Linked DNA regions of Homo sapiens: regions 1, 3 and 4 are each reported to be linked to region 2. The links are microRNA targets in miRTarBase. Many come from high-throughput screens and were not tested one by one. Region 2 holds a microRNA gene; each other region holds the end of a gene's coding sequence.

Evidence for each region. The annotated mature microRNA hsa-miR-4735-3p reads AAAGGUGCUCAAAUUAGACAU and lies in region 2 at 1,705-1,725, shown strand. An mRNA with a match to its seed (bases 2 to 7 or 8) in the 3' UTR can be bound and repressed. Matches are read on the target gene's strand: a 7mer-m8 pairs with bases 2 to 8, a 7mer-A1 pairs with bases 2 to 7 and ends in A, and an 8mer does both.
Region 1: the mRNA of ZNF367 is a reported target of hsa-miR-4735-3p. Seed matches in the 3' UTR shown: 8mer at 370-377.
Region 3: miRTarBase lists RAD51AP1 as a target of hsa-miR-4735-3p. Seed matches in the 3' UTR shown: 8mer at 956-963.
Region 4: the mRNA of ISCU is a reported target of hsa-miR-4735-3p. Seed matches in the 3' UTR shown: 7mer-A1 at 2,939-2,945.

What each region holds. Positions count from the first base shown.
Region 1 is chr9:96,385,345-96,388,529 of GRCh38, reverse strand. ZNF367 (zinc finger protein 367) reads left to right here. Exons shown (of 5, transcript NM_153695.4): 5 at 71-2,589. The coding sequence ends at 293. Among named protein-coding and RNA genes, the nearest start is that of SLC35D2-HSD17B3, 3.2 kb to the right of the region's middle.
Region 2 is chr1:196,580,957-196,584,141 of GRCh38, reverse strand. MIR4735 (microRNA 4735) reads left to right here and starts at 1,661; the gene lies at 1,661-1,729. The region is part of intron 1 of KCNT2 (potassium sodium-activated channel subfamily T member 2); the gene reads left to right.
Region 3 is chr12:4,558,366-4,561,550 of GRCh38, forward strand. It overlaps RAD51AP1 (RAD51 associated protein 1), which reads left to right. Exons shown (of 9, transcript NM_006479.5): 9 at 492-1,682. The coding sequence ends at 628. Among named protein-coding and RNA genes, the nearest start is that of DYRK4, 2.2 kb to the right of the region's middle.
Region 4 is chr12:108,568,756-108,571,921 of GRCh38, reverse strand. It overlaps ISCU (iron-sulfur cluster assembly enzyme), which reads right to left. Exons shown (of 5, transcript NM_213595.4): 5 at 2,554-3,091. The coding sequence ends at 3,006. Among named protein-coding and RNA genes, the nearest start is that of ISCU, 7.7 kb to the right of the region's middle. RefSeq lists an enhancer at 2,837-2,986.

The DNA of each region.
Region 1 (3,185 bases), not on the chromosome of region 2:
TTTAAAAGAAAAGTAAACATTTGGAAATTTCATGTCTGCCATGTAACTAATGTTGCTGCATTTCACATAGGTATTGGGAAATGAGAGAGCAGCGCACCCCCACTTTGAAAGGCAAGCTGGTTCAGAAGGCTGATCAGGAGCAGCAGGACCCTCTGGAATACCTTCAGTCTGATGAAGAGGACGACGAGAAGAGAGGGGCCCAGCGCCGGCTGCAGGAGCAGCGGGAGCGCCTGCATGGAGCCCTCGCGCTCATAGAGCTTGCCAACCTGACTGGGGCGCCACTCCGACAGTAGCTTGGACACTGACTCTTCCACTGTACAAAAGTACTGCCCAGCATACTTAAAAAGTAGATCCTTGGGCATAAGCTAAGCACCTTATTTGCTTATCATAGGCTGCTATTCTGTAGAAATTTATGAAGAATGTTATTGCCCCAGAATATGGGGTGAGAGAGAACTGCACTTTTTTAATATGGAAATGAATTCATCGTAAAGTTTAAAATATTTTGTAAATATGGACTGCACAGTACAGGGTAGAAAACTACATATTGTGGGAAGCTAGATTTTGCAAGTTTAATGCATTCATTGGAAGCAGTTCTCACAGGAAGCACTTTCTGAATAAGACACTTGTTTGAAAAACAGAATGGTACAAATAGCCAAAGAAGATTAAAACAGATTATTTATAAGATCATTTTTAACAATATATATTAGTATGTTTAACAATACTGTAAACACTGAAGCAAGCAAGAAAGTATAAAATATGTAAGATAGATAATTTTAATTGCAAAATACTGTGCCCACTAAGGCTAGAGAAATGGGAGGCTATTTTGGAAGATGTTCTAAGTAATGGACTTAGAAGAAAATAGATATTTGAGGCTCTTGGTAAGATGCACAATAGTTCAGAATTTTTGAAATTGGAGCAAAATCAGTCTTATTCTATCTGGGGCTTTACAACTCAGTATAATGTTTAAGTTTGAAAAGCACTTGTCATCCCTAGCATGTTAACTTGGGAACTTTTGCACATTTCATATTTCTCATTTGCTGAAATTGAGTGATTAATCTTGCAAAGTCTAGGTAACATAGTAATTGGTAATTTTAAAAATACATATTAAGGGCCCTGTAATGAGATTTGGCACTTGGATTTTTACTAAAGGGACACCTGCAGGGTTGTTTTGTAGTGAAATGTTTTAGATCTTTTGTTAGCAAACACTACATTTTAATTGTACTGCTTGTTTAGAATTATTAGCAAATGGAAGCCTCCATATTTATATTTTCAGTGCATAAAGCCACCTTCTTGCTTTACTTCAGAGTAACATGCCAAGCTATTTTGTGTTCACTAAATTTAGCTATCAGTTAAACACTGCAGAAAATATTAGCTACTCAAATAAGTAGGCTTCTGAAATAGTTTTAACTGCAAGTGTGTTAACTTGTGTGGTGGTTTGAAGCCATTTTTCCAAATAAAGTTATTAAACACCACTTTATGTACTGAAGCATGAACAGAAAAATCAAGAGCTGAGCAGACCACCTCCTTTATGTAGGCAAAACTTCCATCATTTTGGCTTTTGTTCTAAACAGAACTAAATGACATGCATAGCATGGTAACTTACAGATCGCTTAATTGGAGTAAAACTCAGAGTAATAGAGGGAAATATGGGCTCTTCAGTGCCTTTTTAGCTTTTTTGAGTTGAAGACGTTCCTACAGATGTAGTTTAAACATTACAAAGTAGGCTTCTTTATCCAAAAATCCCAATGTGTCATAGTACACAGATAGTTTAAAATATGTAGCCACGGGGAAGGGGAGGCATGTAAATGTCTTGAAGAGGAGAAAAAGTATGAAAGAAGATACGATAGTTACGAATAATGTGTATGATGAGGACATACTTTAAAAATGTAATTCCTCTGTACAGTAAATTACAAATCTTTAGGGATTTTTTTGTAATAAGAGAATTTATATTTGTAATGGTCTAAGAATTTTTTTGTAATGTGGTATATAGAATTTTAATTTGGAGCACTTATAAGCTGGTAAGAGAGACTATAGCATCTGAATTATCTTGGTTTATGTTTCAGCATTTCCTCTAGAATTTTTGCTCTCAAATATGTGATTTAATGAACTAAAAACAACACTCATCAGTCTTGGGAAATTTGAACTTTGATCAACTTAACTAAAGAAGGAAGGGTAGTAAGAATTTTTCAAATACAAATATTTGCCAATTCACAGATGATAACATTTAAGGCCTTCAAAAGTAAGGGTTTTTCCTTGTTTCTCCAGTCAGCTTTTGTCAACTCTAATAGTTTTTTCATAAACATTTTTTATTTGTATAATTGCAACAGTTTAAGAAATTATCACAACTATTTAGAAACATTTAAAATGTTCTTTTTGATATAAGCTATATACTTGGAAAAATACATTGGTATCTAAAATTTGAGGTGTGTTAAGACTGCTTTTTGTTTTAAAAAATGGTTTACATTCAAATTTTTGAAGTGTTTTATGCTTCATATGGCTAAGTTGTAGTTTGGCAGAGTTAACAGCATAAGAATAAACATGCTGTAATTTTAAAAGATGCTTTGAATAAAAATTTATTTTAATTTAAAATTTAAAGTACACGGTCATTCTTAAAGCCTTTATCATTTGTTTTCCTATCGAAAATATAATAACCATGATATAAAAAAATTTAAAAGATAGAAACATCACCTACAGCCTTATGTTCAGCCATCAGTATTATTTCAGTACATGTTTGCGTAGTTGTAAGTACAGTGTGGATTGCTTTTTCTTACTTTAATTATGGCTTTTAAGGTTATAGATATTTAACTTCCTCATCGGGTTCATTACTACAGTGTTAAAAATATACTGCTGTGGATAAGTATTGAACTATTGCCACCCCATTTCCAGGCCTTAAATTAGGGTAATAAGGAAAAGGGATTTCATTTCACTTACATTTAGGATGGGTTGTCTCTGGGGTCAGCTCCTCAAGAATCCATTTAAAGCCTGTGTACTTTTCTAAGAGTCTAGCAAATTGGTTTTCTTTTTTCATCAGTTATTTTTGGTAGATCTTTAGTTGTGTATTTGCAGTGGCAAGGGTCAGCCTGTCCTACCCTTGTGCAGAAGAATATCACAAGCAACTCCTTAGTGTGAGTTGCTGTTTAAACAGGGTAAGGATGGGATTTTGACAGCGAGGTAAGGTCCTGGAA
Region 2 (3,185 bases):
TTTCGCATTCTTTGCCCAGGTAATACCCTGTTCCAGACCCTGCCTTTATAGTTCCTTTAGTTTGGTGACTTTTATATCCAATTCTGCCTGGCACCCTCTTGTTAGGCTGGACCTGAGTATGACCAAGATTGCTCTACTTCTGGAAACTTACGTGGCAACATCCCACCATGTAACTCTAACTTGTCCTTTCAGTGTTCACACTTCCTTACTAACACCAAACTGATTCATTTTTACATATCATCAAGACCTTCAGTACCCTATATATTTCCATGCTTTCCACCCATTTTTAACCTGAACTTTTCTTTCCTGGCTCTTATTTACTCTTCTATCTTGTGCATTCTTTCTTCTGCCCTATGGCTCTACTTACGTTTCTCTTAAAATTTCTGATGATCTTTTTCATGCCAGGTCCAATGAACAATTTTTTTTTTCTGATTCTCCTCCTCTTTCTTGAAACTTCCTTCTCTTGATTTCTATGATATCATTCTTCTTTGTTTTATGTCCTACTCATCTTATCCTAGTTCTCCTTTACAGTCTTCCCTTCTTTTATTTAGCACTAAAAATTATGTTTTATCAAGGATTCTTCCTTGGTTCTTTGCTCTTTTCATTTCTAGTTTGCTTTGTTTAAACTTCAATAAATGTAATTATATGTTGATGATTTCCAAATCATGATATTTGTCTTACTTCTCTGTGCAGAGCTCTAAAACTATATAGACTGCTTTCCACTGGGTGTCTTTTCATGTTCAGCAGACATTTCAATCCACAGTGTCCAAAATTAATTTTGTCATCTCTTTGAAACTATTTACCCTCTGGTATTTTTTGTGTTTAAATATGGTACCAACATGCAACCAGCCACCCAAGGCTGGATTATTAAATTCTTTTTAAAGCTTGGTTCACTACAGATCTCATTGATTCAATTCATAGATGGCTCAAATTGTTGTCCTCATGAGTCCATTTTAATTATTACGCTTCTAATTAATGTGCCTGCCTTTCTCATCTGAACTCTTGAGAGGTGTTTTAATTTTTCTGCCTCAGGTCTTCCTTCTGGCTGCCATTGGACAATTCCTCTCTCTGGAATGAATAACAACCTCTGAAGACATCCCACTCCACCTCTACATGTCACATGATATTCACCTATTTTTTGACCAGTTATCACTTACATAATCTTTATCTCAGCATTTTAGGAAGGCTTTTTCGCTATGCAAATCTCTGTATTTTATAATCCTGTATAATTATATTTTATAATCCTGTATAATTATATTTTATAATCCTATGCAATCTGTATTATCTTCTGTATTTTATGCTTTTCAAACCTTTATTGTACTCTATTTGTTCTACTTTATTTAGTTTGGACAAGCTGAAGCAGGTGACATGGTTCATCTGTATCCTTGCCTGATGCATCACTGAAATGTAAATGAATTGGTGGTGAGAGAATAATTCAAAGGACTCAGTGTTTGAACCAAGCCTAGTCAATGCTGTCAATGCTGCTGTATCTTGGGTGTTTGTGGAGGCACTAAGGTAGTGGCCAGGACTGAAGAAATTGGGAACTTGACCTTATAAGGCAGCTACAAAACTTGCCCTCTATCATTCTAACCAACCCTTCCAAACTTCTAAAAATCTCAGCTCCACTTCTGCAAGTTTATCTTCCCTGCTTGCATAAAATTGCAGTGCCTAATTTGAACACCTTCGGTATTCATCAAAAATACCAAAGGTGCTCAAATTAGACATTGCATTTTTTGCGCATGTCAAGTTGAAATCTATTCATGGATCTTTAGCTCCTTAAGAGAACATGCATATAACATTACTTTTTACTAGCATTCTTCCAAGTACTTTACATGCCCAACGAGAAAGCATAATATTATCCCCATTGTACAGCTGAAGAAACAGGCATAGAGAAGTTAAGTAATCCGTTGGTGATTACAAAGCTAGAAAATGGCAGAGCCAGGAACTTGAACCCTGTTTTTCTTGGCCATTAGGCTTGCTGGAAGGGGATACTAAGATGTAGGAAGGGAAGGTGGAGATGAGGGTCTTTGTTGATTTTCCTAAAAAAGTTGGCGTTGTACTGGCATATGGAGAGAAGTTGATAAGTAAATATTAAATACATACATGTTGGTTTTGAAATATATGATAAGACTTTTTAAAGTCTACCTGAAGAACTGGCAGTATTATTGGTTCTCCCACAGAATTTTCTTATGAAAGACATAATTTTCCTGAAATGTGAACATAGAGGCATTTGTGATGCCTATTATCCAGCTGTCATCTGTCTATTCATGTTGTACACATCTACTATAATTTAAATAGGAGAACAACAAAATGAAAGACTTAGTTTTCAAAACATAAGTAATGGAAGAAAGTGAATTTGATATATTTTTATGACAGCTTTTAGTAAATACTTTTAAAATGAACTGAAGTTAATTTATGCTTGAGTGGGATTTCTTTCTCTTTTTGGAAAGTTTTTATAAATAAATGAAAGAAAATATGTTCTTACTAATAACAGTTTCCCCTCCATCTTTCCCCCATCTCCTTAGGATACTTGTGGAATGTCTCTAGAGTGAGTCGGCCACTGAGAGGACTTTGTATTGTGTTAACTTCATTATATTGAAATTTTGGAATAGCCTCAGGGAATAAGGGACAGAAAAAAATGGGGCAATATTCACCCGGTGGCATTCATTTTCAGTAAAGAGCAAGTAAAACCCTTTATTAAATTTAATGTTTTATTTTTGCTTAGTTTGGAATATACATGTGTATTTCACATATATAAAAATAGAACTTTTTTTACTAAACTGGTCCAGATCTAGATATTTATAGGCATATGGAATTTGGAGGTTACAAAATTAACTTCTAAGAATAAATATTTCCTACTCCTCAAGTATCATGTAAGAATAATTTTTCTATGACAATAAAAAAAGCGAAACACTACAATCTGACCCATATTTTCTTGCCACAGATTAGCATTTATGTGATCTTATTCTAAGCCTATGTGGTACAGAAAGGTAAAAATGCTAAAAGAATGACTATATCACATATATACTAATATTTCAATGTTTAATTTTCTGAAAAAAAAACTGTACGTTTTGTAAATAGCTGTAGCAGCTATAGTCAAGATGATTTCTTGAGAAGAAATTACCTGTTCTTTAAAAAATGTTCTTGCCAAAATAATGATTGTACATAGCTCAAAAATCAGCTAT
Region 3 (3,185 bases), not on the chromosome of region 2:
TAATTTTGAAATAGATGGAAATAATTGCGACATTAGGATAATAGTATAATGAAACTAGTATAAATAAATAACAATATTTGCCATTTTTAAAGGTATTTAATAATTGAAAAATAGACTCTTCAAGGACTACTTGTAAAAATTGCAGGACCTTAAAAATGCATTTGCTTTTTCTATTACTTTAGAAATTATAATTATATGCATTTTTGTATGCCTTTACAACTAGCATTATTTGTTCCCAGCCTTCCTTTTTCAGCTTTCATGGTGAGGTTTTAGTGTCATTACCTTGGCTTCTGGGATGTTTGGAAATAGGCAATACTGTATTAATTTCTGCTCTTTAGAACATTCTGTTCTTTTGATCTAGTTTATTGCTTGATAGACACTGGAAAGCAGAATAATGCTTAACTACCTTTTTTTTGCTGCTTATTTTATAAATTAATCTTTGTTAAGAGATTTCTGACATCATCAGCATCACATCATATGTTTCCTTTCAGCGGCATCTGGAGGTAGCAGAAGTAGCAGCAGCCCACTGGTGGTAGTGTCTGTGAAGTCTCCCAATCAGAGTCTCCGCCTTGGCTTGTCCAGATTAGCACGAGTTAAACCTTTGCATCCAAATGCCACTAGCACCTGAGTGTGGTACAGGAGGAATGTTTGGTTGGGAGAATCACAGCTTTACAAGGGTGTTTATATTTGATTTGTGTTTATATTTGAGGCAGGTATTGTAATATAAAGGAATCCATTACCATGTCCTATAAATGACCTCTAGCCATTTTATGATTATGTTCTCTGTAAAACTCTTCAAGACTTCAATGAGAAGTTTGTTTATAAGAATTATCTTCTCATACCTTTCCTTGTGAAGAGCGTATTCTGTTTTTCTATCAGTTCGACATGAAGTCCACATCACATGCTGTTCTTTTCTAGTTACATGATGTGCCTTTCTAGCTTTGTCTAGTTTATAGCACCTTAACTTTAACTGTTCAGTTTTATCTGGCAGAGGAAAACATTCTTATTTCTTTCAGAAGACATTTCTGAAATCTTATAAGCTACTTAAGCTACGTTGTCAGTTTTATCGCAAAGATGTTTTGTATTTTAGCCAAATCTTTTTATAGTACAAACTTAGAATTATTTTACACACTAAAATGGTTGCAGTTTTATGGCATATGTCTCCGATTTAGATGGTTATTCTCTAGAAAATAGTATTTAAAGACATTTTATGAAATCTTCATTGTCAAAACCTTTAATAAAAGTGGAAATATTTTGAAATGCCCTTTTTCTTGATACCACTCATCCACGTGTTCCTGATTGTCCACATTTCATGATAAAATGAGAGCTCCGCAGAGAATGTTAGCCTTTCTGTTGTAAATGTAATCTTCAAGTAGTCACTTTTTGTTAAGTTCTTTAGAAAGTAGTTGTCAAGTACTTAGTCATCCCTATTATGATATGAGATAGTACAGCTTTTCAGGAAGCTTAGATCTGAATTTACTTTGAAAAACAATTGTAATGAATATTTTATATTTACATTGAGAATTTCAACTAGCTTCTGATCAATTTTTAATAAAAAATTTTCAAATCATGTTAGCTGTTAAAAAATGTATAATAACTCAGTTTTTCTTGGTTTATGGAAATATCTATATTAATGTGAAAATAATTAATTTAGAATTGTGATTAAAGTGAGCATTTGTCTATTGCTGTTGTACACTTCTTTTATCTAACGTATATTTTTATAGTGTCATATACCAGCCCCCTAACCTGCCCCACCTGTCCCCTTTTTAAAAACATATTTTCCAGTTACATAGCACTGAGGTACTCTATTTGGTGTAGATCAACAATAAACATAAGAGCCTACTGTATATTAGGTACTGATATAATTGATTAATCATCTGGCACCAGCTCAATAACCTGTTTTTGCCGTGTTCTTTATAGTTTATCAGGGGATTTGAAAATTACCTCAAAGTATGTTAAAACCAGCCTGGCTGAAAGCACTGATACCTTTATGTTGCCAAACCCAGTGTACAATTTTCTCACCTAATCTTATACACCCTATTCATTATACTCTGATGAAAACATTTGATTTCCTTGGCTCATGTGACACATTTCTTTGTCATTTCTTCCCATCTCCATGCCTACTCTTCATTATTTTGCAGCTTTCTAATCTGTTGTGTCACCTTTACCTACTTGTCTTACCAGTTTCATGTTCTATGCAAACTCCAGGGGTCACTTATGTGACAGTGACTGCCAAGTCAGGGTCTGTACCCTATACCATGCTCTTGACAACAGAACCTGTGGATGGTCCACTGACAATTTGATGTAGCAGATCAGTTGTTAAATTCAACGTCTCCTCCTACCCCTGACATCTCTCCTGTGTTTTCTGTTGGTAAATGAATGGCACCACCATCACTGCAGGTGCCAAAGGTGTCATCCTGGGATTGAGTCTTCTCTCGACTTTCACATCCAGTCACCAAGTCTTACTCCATTTCCTAAATTTCTCAAAACTACTCTTCCATGTGCTCTCCCTTACTCTGAAACATCATCACTCACTATTTCTAACAGGCATCCTTGCCTTGATTCTTAACCTACTCGGGCCTACTTCCATTGTTATTGCCACAGAGGGTTTTATAAAATAAAGTCAGCATGAACACCCCTCTGCAGTCTGCACATACACACCTTACCCTGGTCGAGTTCATAGCCTACTTGGTGTCTGACTCCCCCTTTCCTGCTGCTTCAACCTTGTCTCTGCCCACGTGCAACTTTGATCCCTGCCCCACTAAACTGGGTGCTGGCACAATGGTACCAAGCTTTTCTATGGCTCTGGCCTTCAGAATAGGACTTGCCTCCTTTACGTAGACAACTACTGCCTGTCCTTGAAGACTCAGATTCAACTCAGCTCTTTCAGAAAGCTTCATTTGAATGTCTTTTCTGCCTGGACCAGACTGTGCACCTCCAGGTCAACCTACTGCCACTCAATTACAAATTTCCCTTTTCATGCTTTCTACAATCTGGTGCAGAGTAAGCACTCAAAAAGTGTTCAGCTGATATATGGATTTTACCCAGAACTTTTGCTATGTACTTACTTTTTTTCTTTTTCTTTTTCTTTTTTTCTTTTTTTTTTTTTTTTTTGAGATGCAGTCTCGTTCTGTCGCCAGGCTGGAGTGCAGTGGCGCGATCTCGGCTCACTGCAACCTCCGCCT
Region 4 (3,166 bases), not on the chromosome of region 2:
GCCCTCTAACACCACCAAAACTTGGTGGGACCTAGAAGTCTTCTCTTCTGTCGTGAAGATAGACACAAGGTCTGCACTCTTGCCTCAAGTTCAAAGGGCCTGAAGTATCGAGAAGTGTGCCTCATTTGTTTGTCTTTTTAAGAAAATTCATCCTAGGGCCAAGTAGTTTTTACAAGACAATGCTTAATGTGAGGTTCTAGAACTGTGCATTTGGATGTGGTCCCGGGTGGCCCTGGTCCAGGAATCACACTTAGGAAAGGTTACATCCGAGATGTGGTCATAGCTGTAGTGTGGCACTCAGGAGAGGGTGGGAGGTGGGCAGAAGACCTCAGCCAGAGCTCAATTCTACCACTTCCTAGCTGTGTGCCTTGAGGCAAGTCATTTCACCTCTCGGAGCCTCTGCTTCCCCATCCATCCATCTGCCCATAAACCCACCCAGCCCATCAGGTGATGCCAGTGCCCAGGCCCCACCTCCAGAGCATTGGATTTAACTTGGCATCAGGATTTAATTAGGCTCCTGGTGGGAGCCAGGGTTGGCGTGAGGGCCATGGTGCTTGGCAGCCAGTTGGCCAAGAGAATGCATCAGGCTCAACCTGTGTTGGTTCAGCTTCTTCATTGAATGTTCAAGGCACAGGTGAGCCTCTGATGTGCAGTTTGAATCCCTGGTGTGTTCTGCCAGGAGGGGTGAGGCAGAAGAATGGGCTTTGGGTCACTCAGATCAAGCCAGTTGGCCTGAGGGTCAGTTGGCTTCTTGAGCCAGTGTCCTTGTTTGAATCAATGCCCACTGCAGGCAGCTGTCATGAGAATTAACAGGATTACAGATGTAAGGGCCTGGAACAGAGCACAGGTGCTTGACAGACCATTTTAACTTATCTGTGGAGGTTTTCCATGGACAGGTTTATTTAGAGATGCTAAGACCTATTTGGAGGCTGCAAAAACCCCTAGACTTGAGTTCACTGAAGGGCACATGATGCCCTCATGTGGCTCAAACTAGATTTGTTTGGGGAAAGAGTGTCTTTAATGTGAATTTAAAAAATATCCATTTGTTTTAGCAGTACAACCACGTTTAGAGACTTGGGCTCTTCTGGGAATATTGCTTTGTTTATAAGCTCCTCCTGATGTTCAACTCTGAGGATGTTCACTGGGACAGAAATGTCTCATTTAAATTAAAAAAATCACAAAGAAAAGTGGTGGGGAATTGTGGTGGTGCCACATGTAATAAAGAAGGGAGAGACAAGCTCAGTCTAGAGGGACTGTGAATTAAATTGCAGAACATGCCACACAGGACAATTTTACATGGTTCTACCCAGGGTTCTAATTTGAGATTCCTATAAAGGCCCTGGTCTGTGGCTGCCTTCACAGACTACAGAAGGAACAGTCTTTGAAGTTCTGTGCCCTCCACCAGAACCCAGAGCATTAAAACAAAAAAACAAAAAACAACAAAAAAAACAAGGGAGGTATATTTAAGAGGCAGCCAGCCTATACCTGAACAAAAAAACCACCACCAGAAAAAACAAACACATCTTACTTTTGAAGCTGAACATTTGAGACTATGGCAGTCAATATTTCAATAACCCATTTTCACTAGAAGATAGGGCATCCTTTATTGAGATTTGCATGACTATGGGTAGCTAAAAATAGGGAGACATCAGGGTAGGAGGGCCCGTGCTTAGACTTATGCCCAAGCCAGGGATGAATGTTTGTTTGTTTGGCTTTGAGACGGAGTCTTGCTCTGTCTCCCAGGCTGGAGTGCACTGGTGTGATCTTGGCTCACTGCTACCTCCACTTCCCAGGTCAAGTGATTCTCCTGCCTCAGCCTCCCGAGCAGCTGGGATTACAGGTGCGTGCCGCCATGCCTGGCTAATTTTTGTAATTTTAGTAGAGATGGGGTTTCACTACCTTGGCCAGGCTGGTCTTGAACTCTTGACCTCGTGATCCACCCGCCTTGGCCTCCCAAAGTGCTGGGATTACAGGTGTGAGCCACTGCGCCCGGCTGGATGAATGTTTTTTAAACAACCTTAGGTGTACTATGCAGGTACAGATAGTTCAGAATGAACCACTTAAGATACTACATCTATGCAGAACACAGCATTCAGAAGTTTCTTCCCTAAAGTTTGGCTCATCTACGACCACAAAAAACCCAAGAGGTTCTTAAAAGTCAGGGGCTCTGGAATTACCTGCCCAGACAGAAGTCAGAAACTTGGGCCTAGAAATCCGCATTTTAAACTCATTCCCGAGGTGCTCTTCATGTATCTGGTCTACCGCTTTAGGGTGCCAAGCTAATGCTTTTTAGATTTGAGCAACCAGTGAAATTACAGAAAGAATCTTCAAGACTTACTTTGAGCTTTCAACTACTATCACACAAAGAACAATGACAAGCGATAATCATCTCCTTTCATCCTTGTTCCAAAAAATATTACGTATATTTGTCTTTGTTTGCTTGGAGAGCTGTGTATGTCACTGCGGTCCAACCTCTGGGAACCCCAAGGGGCTTTGGGCACCACTTCAGGGTGAATGATGGGCCCAAGAGACAAGGCTTACTAGAGAACACCATCATCTTCCATTATTTTATTATTTTTTATACATATATATATATGCGCAATCTGTTTTATGTACAACAATTGGTTCTATCAAATATTCAGACCAAGGCATTCTACTGGTAATTTCCCCCCAAATCAATTCAGGTAAAATTAGATACTTATGCACTTCACGGGCTATCAAAACTTGCAACTTCATTATCAATTTCAGTTCTGAGGTCATACACACAATTCAAAATATACATTAACTAGGTTAAGGCGATAAAAGTGGGCTGAAAGAAACCACAGGATTCAGAACAATGAAACTGTGTATTTTGCTTGCATGAGAGTCATAACGTGAACAGCAAGTATTGTGCGTATCTCATAGCTCTTCAGTGGAGAGGAAGCGGCTTCTGAACATCTAAGGTGACTGCACAGCAGGTGGGAAACAGCTGGTGTGGCCTGCTGGAGGCTTCGCCGAGGGAGGGCTCATTTCTTCTCTGCCTCTCCTTTTTTGGGTTCTTGTTTCAATTTGTAATCAGCCAGGGCGGCCTTGATTGCATCTTCAGCCAGCACTGGAAGTAACGGAAGGAAAGAAGCCTAAGTTTCTAGATGTGAAAGAAATGGACTTGGGAATAGAATCTTTAAGA